Regions from separate parts of the Homo sapiens genome. Here region 2 is linked to region 1. Evidence: fine-mapped expression QTL. A gene starts in region 1. The other region holds a variant in brackets. All regions are shown on one strand. Distances are from middle to middle. Region 1 holds the start of LINC02152 (long intergenic non-protein coding RNA 2152). Region 2 overlaps LOC105371069 (a long non-coding RNA gene).

What was found. PIP is the estimated chance that this variant, and not a neighbour inherited with it, causes the effect.
Region 2: its variant is the best candidate, but not a certain one, in a credible set for the expression of LINC02152 in thyroid (GTEx, PIP 0.56).

Annotation. Positions count from the first base shown.
Region 1 is chr16:8,293,463-8,298,850 of GRCh38, forward strand. LINC02152 (long intergenic non-protein coding RNA 2152) reads left to right here and starts at 2,969. Exons shown (of 2, transcript NR_184340.1): 1 at 2,969-3,298; 2 at 3,666-5,388.
Region 2 is chr16:8,084,529-8,089,916 of GRCh38, forward strand. All of the region lies in intron 1 of LOC105371069 (a long non-coding RNA gene), which reads right to left. Among named protein-coding and RNA genes, the nearest start is that of LINC02152, 210 kb to the right of the region's middle. The variant G/C (reference allele first, on the strand shown) is at 2,803.

The DNA.
Region 1 (5,388 bases):
ACCCCTCGCTTCTGGAGACTACGAGACTTGTCTGAAGTCACTTGCTGGTCTTCCTTGGCTGCCAAGACTTCTCCCCCTCAGACCACAGGTGTGTGTGTCCGTTCCCTCCATCTTCCCCAGCACAGGCTCCTGACAGGAAAACCCCTGAGCTGACTCACCCAGCCCCACCCCTGATGCTGTTACAGCCTTTCTCGGCTGCTGTAGCTCTTTCTAGATGTGAGCTCATTGAAAAAGACTAAGGCCAATTTTCCTCATCAGAAACTTGGGCGGTTTTATTGCTGCATGGGTGTCTGGCTGGGAACAGAATGAACTTGTCCAGCCTTGCTTGAAAATGGCCTTCTGTCATGGAGATAGAGGGTAGAAGGATGAGTACCAGAAGCTGGGAAGGGTAGTGAGGGGGTGGGGAGGAGATGGGGATGGTTAATGGGTACAAAATAGATAGTTAGAAAGAATGAATTAAGACCTAGTATTTGATAGCACAATATGGGGACTATAGTAAATCGTAACTTAATTGTACATTCTAACATAACTAAAAGAGTATAACTGGATTGTTAACAGGAGGGACGAATGCTTGAGGGGATAGATACCGCATTTTCCATGATGCGAGTATTACACATTGCATGCCTGTATCAGAGCGTCTCATATACCCCATAAATATATGCACCTACTATGTATCCACAAAAATCAAAAATAAAAATAAATAAAAGTATGGCCATTCTGAACTAGCTGATATAAAAGGAAAAAGTTTCCCAGAGAGGCTTCCTGATGCCTCTCCAATAGGGGTGGAAGCGGGGATGGGCGACGTGGGCCCTCCATGGTGACTTTGCCATGGATTCAGAATCCCCTGCCAAGTCTCCTCTCCTTTTTGTGCTCAAGAGCTTTTGGTGTCTATGGCAGTCAGCAAAATAGGGATAATAATACAACTAACAGGGTTGTTGTGAGTTTTAAATGAGATGCTCAAAGGTGCCTAATGCACAGGAAATACTCAATACACTTTATTTTTATTTTATTTTAGCATTATCTTCTCCATTTCCTCTCTCTTGAGAGGAAGGTTAGACTCATCTCTGACCAATCCAGAGAGAGCTAACATAATTCCCCAGAAAATTAATATTATTCCTCCCCATGGCATCATGGATGTTGAGAGCTGCAGACAATGTGGAGGTCTCTGCCCCAGGCTGTCCCTCTTCATTCAGAAAATATCAAAGACCACCTGTCTCCAATGGCTTTCTATGGTGAGGATACTCTATCCTGCTCTTTATGGATATTATCTATTAATTTCCCCATTTGACAGAAGGGGAACCTAAGTCTAAGGGATCATGTGACTTGCCAAGATCCCATGAATAACTAACTTGTTACCAGAACTGGGACTCCAAAGTAAGCATTTTAAACATTCCATTCTTGAGATGGGTGCAGTGGCTCATGCCTGTAATCCCAGCATTTTAGGAGACCGAGGTGGGAAGATTGCTTGAGGCCAGGAGTTCAAGACCAGCCTGGCCAATGTGGCAAAATCCTACACTACAAAAATTTGCCAGGTGTGGTGGTGCATGCCTGTAATTCCAGCTACTTAGGAGGCTGAGGCACGAGAACCCCTGAACCCAGGAGGCAAAGGTTGCAGTGAGCCAATATCATGCCACTGCACTCCAGTTAGCATTTATTGGGTGTGTGTTGGCTGCCATACTTTCTTTGAAAAGCTCCCTGCATATTAACTCAGTCAATCCTGATTTTGATCTTGTGAGGGAGGTACTGTTACGTTCCCACTTCCTAGGTGAGGTATTGGAGACTCAGGTCACTACTTTGTCCCCACAAGCTAATAAATGAGAGACTGGTACCTATTATAACTGATGCCAAAGCCCTGGCATCCTCTTTCCTCTTAGGAATTGCATAATCTGTATTCCTACGAAGATCCATGAGCCTAGCGGGTGCAATGGTACATTCAGCCCTGTAACCAGTGGTTATGACTTGGACAGCTCTGTCCCTCTCCACTCAGCAGAGCCCACTGCCAATCCCTGGAGCTGAGGAGGCAAGCACACTATGGCTGTCACCCTGAAGATGCCCCAAAGTCTGTAGACAAGACAAACCCCAGTCTGGAACAAAAGCTGGCTGCGAATGATCCATCAGCATTCCTAAGTAGGCCACGCTGCGCCATTCACAGTTCCCTCCTACCGTACGTGATAAGCTGTGACATATGGTGTTCATTTACGCCTCCATTCCCGCAGAAATATGGCTGGCACCATCAATTTCCCTGTTTGTGCTGTGACCCACTGTTCCTGGGTTAAGCAGCCTGCCTTGTCTACATTTGTCAGTTGATACAAGCTTCTCCCTGCCATAGGCACCACTATTGATGAACGTCGTCAGAATATGGAACTTTGAACAATGTATAAAGGATTCCACATGCAAAGTCTCCCCAGGAAGAGGTGGGGTGGGTGGGGGTGGGGAGAGGGAGTGTTAGATGTTTTCTCTGTTGGAGTGCCTTCATTTACAAAGCATATTTTTCAAGTCTTTTGCTAAGAGTAATGCCATGGAGCAGCCTCCCATCATTCTTGTTAATAGGACTGTCTGTGTGTTACAGTAAACAGCTATAACTCTTCTGTTGGAGCCGTTGTGCAGCAGGCAGAGTTTGTTCAGTATCCAATTAAGGGTGTCTCCAATTTGCCAGCCAGGATCATGAGAGCTGTGACTCAGCCATCAGGCAACCTGGGCATTGTGGAGGCTTCTCAAAGTAGAGAGGGCTGATGCCCTTCCTCCTCCGCAGCAAGGGGACTGGAGCCTGGCTCTAGACGATCTCTGTTTTGTTTTGTTTTGTTTTGTTTTGTTTTGTTTTGTTTTGTTTTTACATGGAGTTTCGCTCTTGTTGCCCAGGCTGGAGCATAGTGGTGCGATCTTGGCTCACGGCAACCTCTGCCTCACGGGTTCAAGTGATTTTCCTGCCTCAGCCTCCCAAGTAGCTGGGATTACAAGAGTGTGCCACCACGCCTAGCTAATCTTGCATTTTCAGTGGAGACAGGGTTTCAACATGTTGGTCAGGCTGGTCTCAAACTCCTGACCTCAAGTGATTCAGCCGCCTCGCCTCCCAAAGTGCTGGGATTACAGGTGTGAGGCACCACATCCGACCTCTGCTCTTCCTCAAAGGCCACCAAATCATGCCAGCTAACTGTGCAAAGATGTTAGCCTGATAGTCAAAGCTCTTCCCAGACTCTTATAAACATAGAAGAACATAGCGGTTAAGAACATGAGCTCTGCAGCAGGATTACACGGATTCCAATCTCAGCTCAGCCACATACTAGCTGTGTGATGTTGGGTAAGTTACTTAACTTCTTTGAACCATGTTGTCTCACGTTTAAAAAGGGACAAATCATAGCACTGGCTTCATACAGTTGATTTGAGAATCAAATGATGCATGATACACATTTAAACCACCACTACCCTCACATCATCGTCATTTACTAGGCTTGGATACATCTCGTTCCTCACCTCTCTGTGTCCAGTTGATTAGTATTCATCTTTCAAGCTCCATCTCAAATTCCACCCCCTGATGACTGTAATCAACAGGGACTCTTCTCTCCATTAATAGCCATAGTGGAGGAGTGGGGACTTACCATGTACCACGTCCATACCTGACTCTTATAACTACCCTATAAAGTAGGTTCTATCTCCTTATTTTACAGATGAGAACATTGAGGCCTAGGGCATTTCAATAGCTTGCCAAAGGGCTCATCATTCTCGGGTAACAGGATGAGGCCAGACACCAAGGATCCCTGGATCCATGCCCTACTCTCCACACTTGTCTTGGGTCTATGAAGCCCCCAGTCCCAAGGTAAGTCATGTCATTGTGGAAATTAATTGCAACCTTTCATGATTGTCCGATCCCATCTATGGGTTTCAAGGAAGATTATGAAGTCCTTAGAACCACAATGTGTCTAATTTTTATTCTGTATTTTATTTATTTTTAAATGTCTGAGATGCTGAGAACCTGAGATATCACTCATCTCATCTTCCTGAATTTTATGAACTAAGAAGCGAAAGCTCACCCAAAGCCATTTATAGAGTCTATGGAAAAAGAAGGACTAGACCCTGGATTCCGTGATTTACAGGTTTTTCTTCTCCTAATTTTCAATCCACTCCAAAACATGCAGAGAGATGACCTTAGCAAAGATGTTTATTAGTGTACGTTGGTGCTGTTGTTTCGGGGAGGGGGTCGGAAGGTCTTGGAATCACTTCCTACTGTGTAATCTGCAAGCTTCCCACTGCGTCTTCCTCTTCCTCTTTGCTTTTTCCAGAGATATAAAGGGTGGCTGGTGCCATTCTTCCAAAAGGAAAGCTGTCATCTTTACTCACTCAGTCCTCAGCAAACTATCTGAGCACTATTTTTGTGCCTCATCTGGGAGCTGGGGAGTCAGTGATGGGCAAGATATGGTCTTTACTTGCAAAATTCCCATAGCACATTGGAGAAGAAAAAACAGCAATCAGGTATGTGCGCTACAGGGGGGTGCATGCTGCAACCACCAGCATCAACAACAACATGCATTGAATGCTTCATGTATATCAAGTGCTCTCTCTCCTAAGAGATATGAATGCATTAACCCCATTTACTCCTCAAGACTAGAAACAAACACTTTATAATTTGCTACGGACTGAAAATTTGTGTCCCCCTAAAATGTATATGTGGAAGTCTTAATCCCCAATGTGATGATATTTGGAGGCGGGGCCTTGGGACATAATTGGGGTAGGGTGAGGTCATGAGGGTGAAAACCCCATACTGGGATTGGTGCCCTTAGAAAGGTATAAAGGGACTGGAGCATGCAGTTTCTCTCTCTCTCTCTCTCTGTTTCTCTCTCTCTCTCTCTCCCTCCGCCGTATGAGCACGCAGCAAGAAAGCGGCTGTGTGGCAACCAGGAAGACAGCCTTTATCAGAATCCAGCCATATTGGTGCCCTGATCTCAGACTTTCCAGCCTCCAGAACTGTAAGAAATAGATGTTCACTGTTTAAGTGCCCCAGTCTATGGTATTCTATGATAGCAGCCCAAACTGACTAAGACATCATTTCTTTTATCAGATGAGGAAACCAATACATAGAAAGACTTTTAAATTTTCCCTAAACAATGGAAGTACATGCTAAGTGCAATAGGGGTATGTAGAAAAGAGTGTTCAGATTTTAGGGAGATTTCCAGAAAAGGCCTCTTCATGCTGGAGATGGCTTTTTTTAAATAATGGAAGGGAGTTCCCAAGGCAATGGTTGAGCAGTGGAGTGGGAGCCCAGGTAAGAGTATGCAGGTGGTAGAAACAAAATATTCTAAGACAGACGGGCACAAAACAGCATGGCTTATTTGGGGAACTACAAGTACCTCTATGTTGCTGATGCCTGATGTTCTAGAGGACACATTTCAAGGC
Region 2 (5,388 bases), 210 kb before region 1:
TCTCTGGGAAATTAAAGTCTGCAGCCCTTTGGTGACCATATGCTAATTACTAGCCACTTGCTTCTAAAAGGCAGATCTTATCTTATCACTTGGCTGCTCAAAACTTTTCAGTTTGTTTTCCATCAGGCTCAGGGTAAAGTCTAAACTTTTGGACAAAGCCTCTTCTTAAGACTCTTTCTACACTAACCCTGTACTACATGTTCCAGACATTCTGAAGGTCTTTCATTTTCTGCAAAATTATAATTTATTGGCTGACTGGCCAGATGGATGGATGGATGGGTAGATGGTTGGGTGGATGGATGAACAGGTGGATAGATGGATAAACAGATCAATTAATGAATGAACTCCCAATTTCTTTCACAGGGGTACTTAGTTATAGTCCTTAAAATATCTTCCCTTAGTCTAAACCACTCTCTACCTGTGCATGTGTCTGAATCATATTTACTCACCAGGTGTTGAGGTAGTTGTACCCTTCGGTGATGTTTAACTTCACTCATGGTTTTAACCTGTCATCTTGGTTCAGCCTCTGGGAGGCCTCAAGGGCCTGGTAGTGGACATCATTTTCCCTGATTCATGTTACACTTAATTACCTCCCTCTGACAACCAGGCACAGATTTCTAGTGTTTTTCTCTTCTCACTCTTCTATTTTTTTTTAACTCAACCCTTAACACCTACCTATTAAATAGAGATGGCTGCAGTTCTTGGCTCAAATGGAGGGCCAAGATGAGTGACAACTTGTAGTCGAATCAGTCAGTAGATTTTCAACTTCTAACACAACACTTTTCCCCAGGTCTGAAGAAGATCTCCAGGATTATTTTTTCCCAAACTTCATATTAGTTTTGCAATAATAAAAATGCCTTATGCAGAAAAAAGTTAATAATTTTTGAGGCTGTATAATGGATACAATGGGTTCATTATTCCATTCCATTTGCATGGATGCATAGAATTTGTTCTTTTATCCTGTTGAGCTCTACATATTAAAATGAGCAAAGATATGAAACTCATGATACCTAAAAGATGTGTGTGTTTATGTCTATTATTGGAAGAAAGATATAATAGCCCAATTATATTGTAATACAGAAATATTATCCAAAACACAATTATTTTCACTTCTAAATGCCTTACCCCAGTCCCTGAGAATAGACCCACATTTTTAGAAGATGGCATTAATATTGCCCACGTCATTTTATGTTCTGCTTTATTCATTTCATAGTTGATCAAAAACATTTTTTGTATTTCCACTCAGTTTTATAATAATAATTTTTAATATCTGCATAATTTCCTATCAGGTTGATGAAACAACACTGAGTCCATCCATCCCCTATGGATGGACATTTTTATTATTTCTATGTTTTTGTTGCCATTGCTGTCATTGGAGATAATGTTGCAAACCCTAATAAAGGATGCTGAATATAGAAGATCTTATTAAAGTTTTTCATCAATTTTTCCTTTTCCAAAGAGTATTTGATTATCTCAGAACTCATAGTGTCCTTAATTTCTATTTTCATTTTTTCATGGTTTTCACACTTGTGGATCATCTTTCTTAATATTTTGTAATCGTCCCTTCTCTAACTTTAACCTTAAGGAGCATATTAAATACTGCTGGCACAAGCACACAGATCTGGTGTCAAACCAACCTGAATTCAAATGCTTTATCCAACCACTTAATAACTGTGAGAACTCAGAAGTGTGATTGAATATTTCTAGGCTTTAGTGTTCTCACCTGCAAACTGAGAATAGTAGAGACATCATAGGTTTATTGTAGAGTACTTTAAGAAAACTTTTGTTGCTACTCTTAATATTTTTATTATTACTGTATTTTGTTTAAATAGCCTGAAAAAGTTGAGCTCAGAAAAAATAGGACCAGGTCTGAAAACTGTAAAGAAGAATTTTTTTTTTCTTTTTTTGGTTTGATTTATTTGTTTGCTTGTTTTCTTTCCAATTTCCGTTTTCATAACCAGAGAGCACTCTGCTGGCAAAAGACCAATTTTACGGTATCCTCATCTGACTAGCCATACTAATCTTTCTCTGAGATATCTTCCCCTGAAACTACACAATACTCATAAAAATAAATTTTAAGGCCAGGCTTGGTGGCTCACGCCTGTAATCCCAGCACAAGGCCTCGTGGGCAGATCATGAGGTCAGGAGATCGAGACCATCCTGGCTAACGTGGTGAAACCCTGTCTCTACTAAAAATACAAAAAATTAGCTGGACATGGTGGTGGGCACCTGTAGTCCCAGCTACTTGGGAGGCTGAGGCAGGAGGATCGCTTGAACCCAGGAGGCGGAGGTTGCAGTGAACCAATATCGTACCACTACACTCCAGCCTGGGTGACAGAGCGAGACTCCATCTCAAAAAATAATAAATAAATAAATTTAAAAATAAATGGTGACAGTTTGGCCTAACGAATGAGTTTCCCTCATTTTTCATAATCATGGTGATTCACTGAAATGGTTTTGAAGTTTTCACCATTGTTAATAACTTCGTAGTCAATAATTCTGAGCGAAAAATATTTCCTTCAAAGGAGGATTATTTCCTTAGGATGAGTTTTTGCGTTTGGAGTAACTATGTCAGACAATTTAAACTTGACTCATTTTGAAATCATGCTTTTCTAAAGTTTCTGCATTGGGAATAACTATGCTTTTCTGAACTGTTGTACCAATTTTCTTACACCAACTAAACCTTTTTTGGCTCAGTAATAACTAGAGGAAAGAGAGTAGAGCATCCAAAAATAATGAATTCAGTTCACTTCAATATGACAAGATTCATGTTCTGGGAAATATCATACGTGCATATGTCTT[G/C]TTTTATATTTGTTGTTTCAGGCTATGTTTGTGTATCAAATAACCAAACAAATATTTCCATGGTAAAAATATTGTAGCTTCTACTTAGCAACATATAAGCAAAGATTCGGAAATTAACCTGGAAAGTGAAATTATGATGGGAAAAAAACAAAAAGAACATTTACTGTACTAAAAACTCAATGGACTGAGCAAAAATACAATAAATCTTGATTAGGTTCAGTCTAATTTTACCTTCCTTTACGTGTCTCACAAATGTTAGCCGAACAGCAGATTGCTTAAAATAACATTCTGCTTTTAAACTTTTGGGCTTATGGAAATCTTTGCTTGTGGTTGTTGTTATTAAGAAATAGTGATTTTCCTTTACTCTTAGTTATGAAGTTGTTCTAGATTAGAATGCCAAAGTGTGGGACTGTCTAAGCTTAGAATTCCCTCCACCATCCTTTCAGTCTCTCTCCCTCTCTCTCTTCCCCCCACCTTCTCCCTTTCTCTCTCTCTTGTATCTCTCTCTCTTTCTCTCCTTTCCTGTGTCTCCCCACTTCCCAGGCAGATTGCTTCTGTTCTGTCAAATGTTCATTCACCTTTGCTAATGAGTAGCTAATGGGTTTTGGCATCGTGGGACACACAGGGATTGAGAGGGCTGTTTGATCACGGGATGGCCTGGTGTGCTGTGATTGTGCATATGGGATCCTCAAAACCAGCCCCAGAGCCGTTTCCTAGTTTCCCCAATAGTTTCCTGGAACATAGGGTGTTTAGAAATAAAGCTCTATTTTAAAACCTCCGATTCACCACTTTATCTGGCTAACATCCTTCCCTCTTGGAATTGATAACATGTTGACTGTGAGTCATAATGGTAACTTCCTCATGAACATCTGATGTTGTGAAATTAACAAAGTCGAGAACTCCCCAACAGTTAAGCCAAGAAATGAATTATAAAAATGTACTTCAGTCACAATACCAGAGAGAATCCGGTTATGAATTAGTAACAGATGGGAAAATACTATTCACTTTCAATTTTACATAAATGTCTATAATGCTTGTTCTGATCATAAGTTTTTATTTCTTCCAGAGCTTCATTATGGTTCTAGCAAGATTCACCATTAAAAAATATAATAAAAAGCTTGGGTTGGGCAGATGCTATTTTTCTTTCTTCCCTCTCTGCTTGTTAAGCAAAAAAATAAAAAAATAAGTAAATAATTCAGGTGAACAATATATATATACATATCATTTCATTGCTTACTTTTTGCTTTACAAAACAAATTATTATGCATTTCCTCAAACCAGTTAGTCAGGGTATTTATTTTTCTTTTTTTAGATTAGCACCTGTGCCAGAAAGGAAACTGTCAGTTAATGAAGTCTCTAACTCCCTTTTTACTCCATATTACTACAGCTCTCACACAACCTTTAAAAGTAAAAAATATTGAGTATTTACAGCAAATTCTTGACATAAAAACTGTCTCTGTGAATTCACCAACAGTTGAAGCCAAGTGGTTAGATCACAGACAAAGAAAGAAGATAAATGCTCTTTGGTGTTCAGTTTGGTAGACCCCTGGTATATTTCCCAGCCTTGATACTAGTATCAGGCACAAAACATGAGCCTTCTTGGATTTCTCTCTACAGCCTCCTTCCCTGGAAAATTACCACCCACATTCTGGACCACTTGGCTGCCATCTTTGCTGGTGCCCTTGCTAGTTTCCCTGAGTTGGCTGGGGTCAAGGTTGAAGCCCTGGGCCTGGATGATCCTCACTTCCAGTACGCTGAACCATGTTGAGTCAGCCCTCCACTTCTGATCTTGAATGGACTACAACACTGTGAGGTATGGGATCCAACTACCTGAGAGAAGTTCAAGGGCAGATGATATAACCTTGAAGTGTGGAAGATCGGTCCTTCATGGAGTGAAACTTGACCAAAGGGAAATAGGAGATAGAAGGAGCTAGAGGAATAGATTCCTCCTCTTTTCTCTTTTATAGACCCTTCTCCTAAGTGTACATCTTTTTTGCAACACTCTCTGTGAACATCCTTTCTGCTGGGCCACCAGACTTGCTCAGCATACCTGATTTGCCTCTGTGCAGCACTTATAAAGTAGTGCTCAGCACTGAAATGCAATGCATAGCATTACCTCTTATCTTTCCCTGTCTTCCCTCCATTTTCCCCCACAACCCTTATTGTCCTGGGCTTTCAGCTCTCGGAGTATCATTACTGTAATCCTTGCCTCAATCCCTGCTTTCTAGAAATGCACTCTTCTACTTTGGGCATCATAATTATTGGTACTGTCCCTTTTCACTCTTTTAAGTGGTAGGGACAACTTCCCTTCAGAAGAGACAACTTTGGGAAAAAATAAAATGGAGTGTAGTAGTTGAATGGTGGCCCTAAAGAAAGATATGTGCTGATCCTCGGTACCTGTGAATATGGCCATATCTGAAATATAGACTCTGCAGGTGGAATTAAGGATCTCTAGACCTGATAATGCTGGGTTTAGGATGAGCCCTAAATCCAATGATGGGTGTCCTTATGAAACAGAAAAGGAGAAAACACAGAGAGAGACACAGAGAGCAAGGGGCCTGTGCAGCCACAGGCAGAGGAACTCTA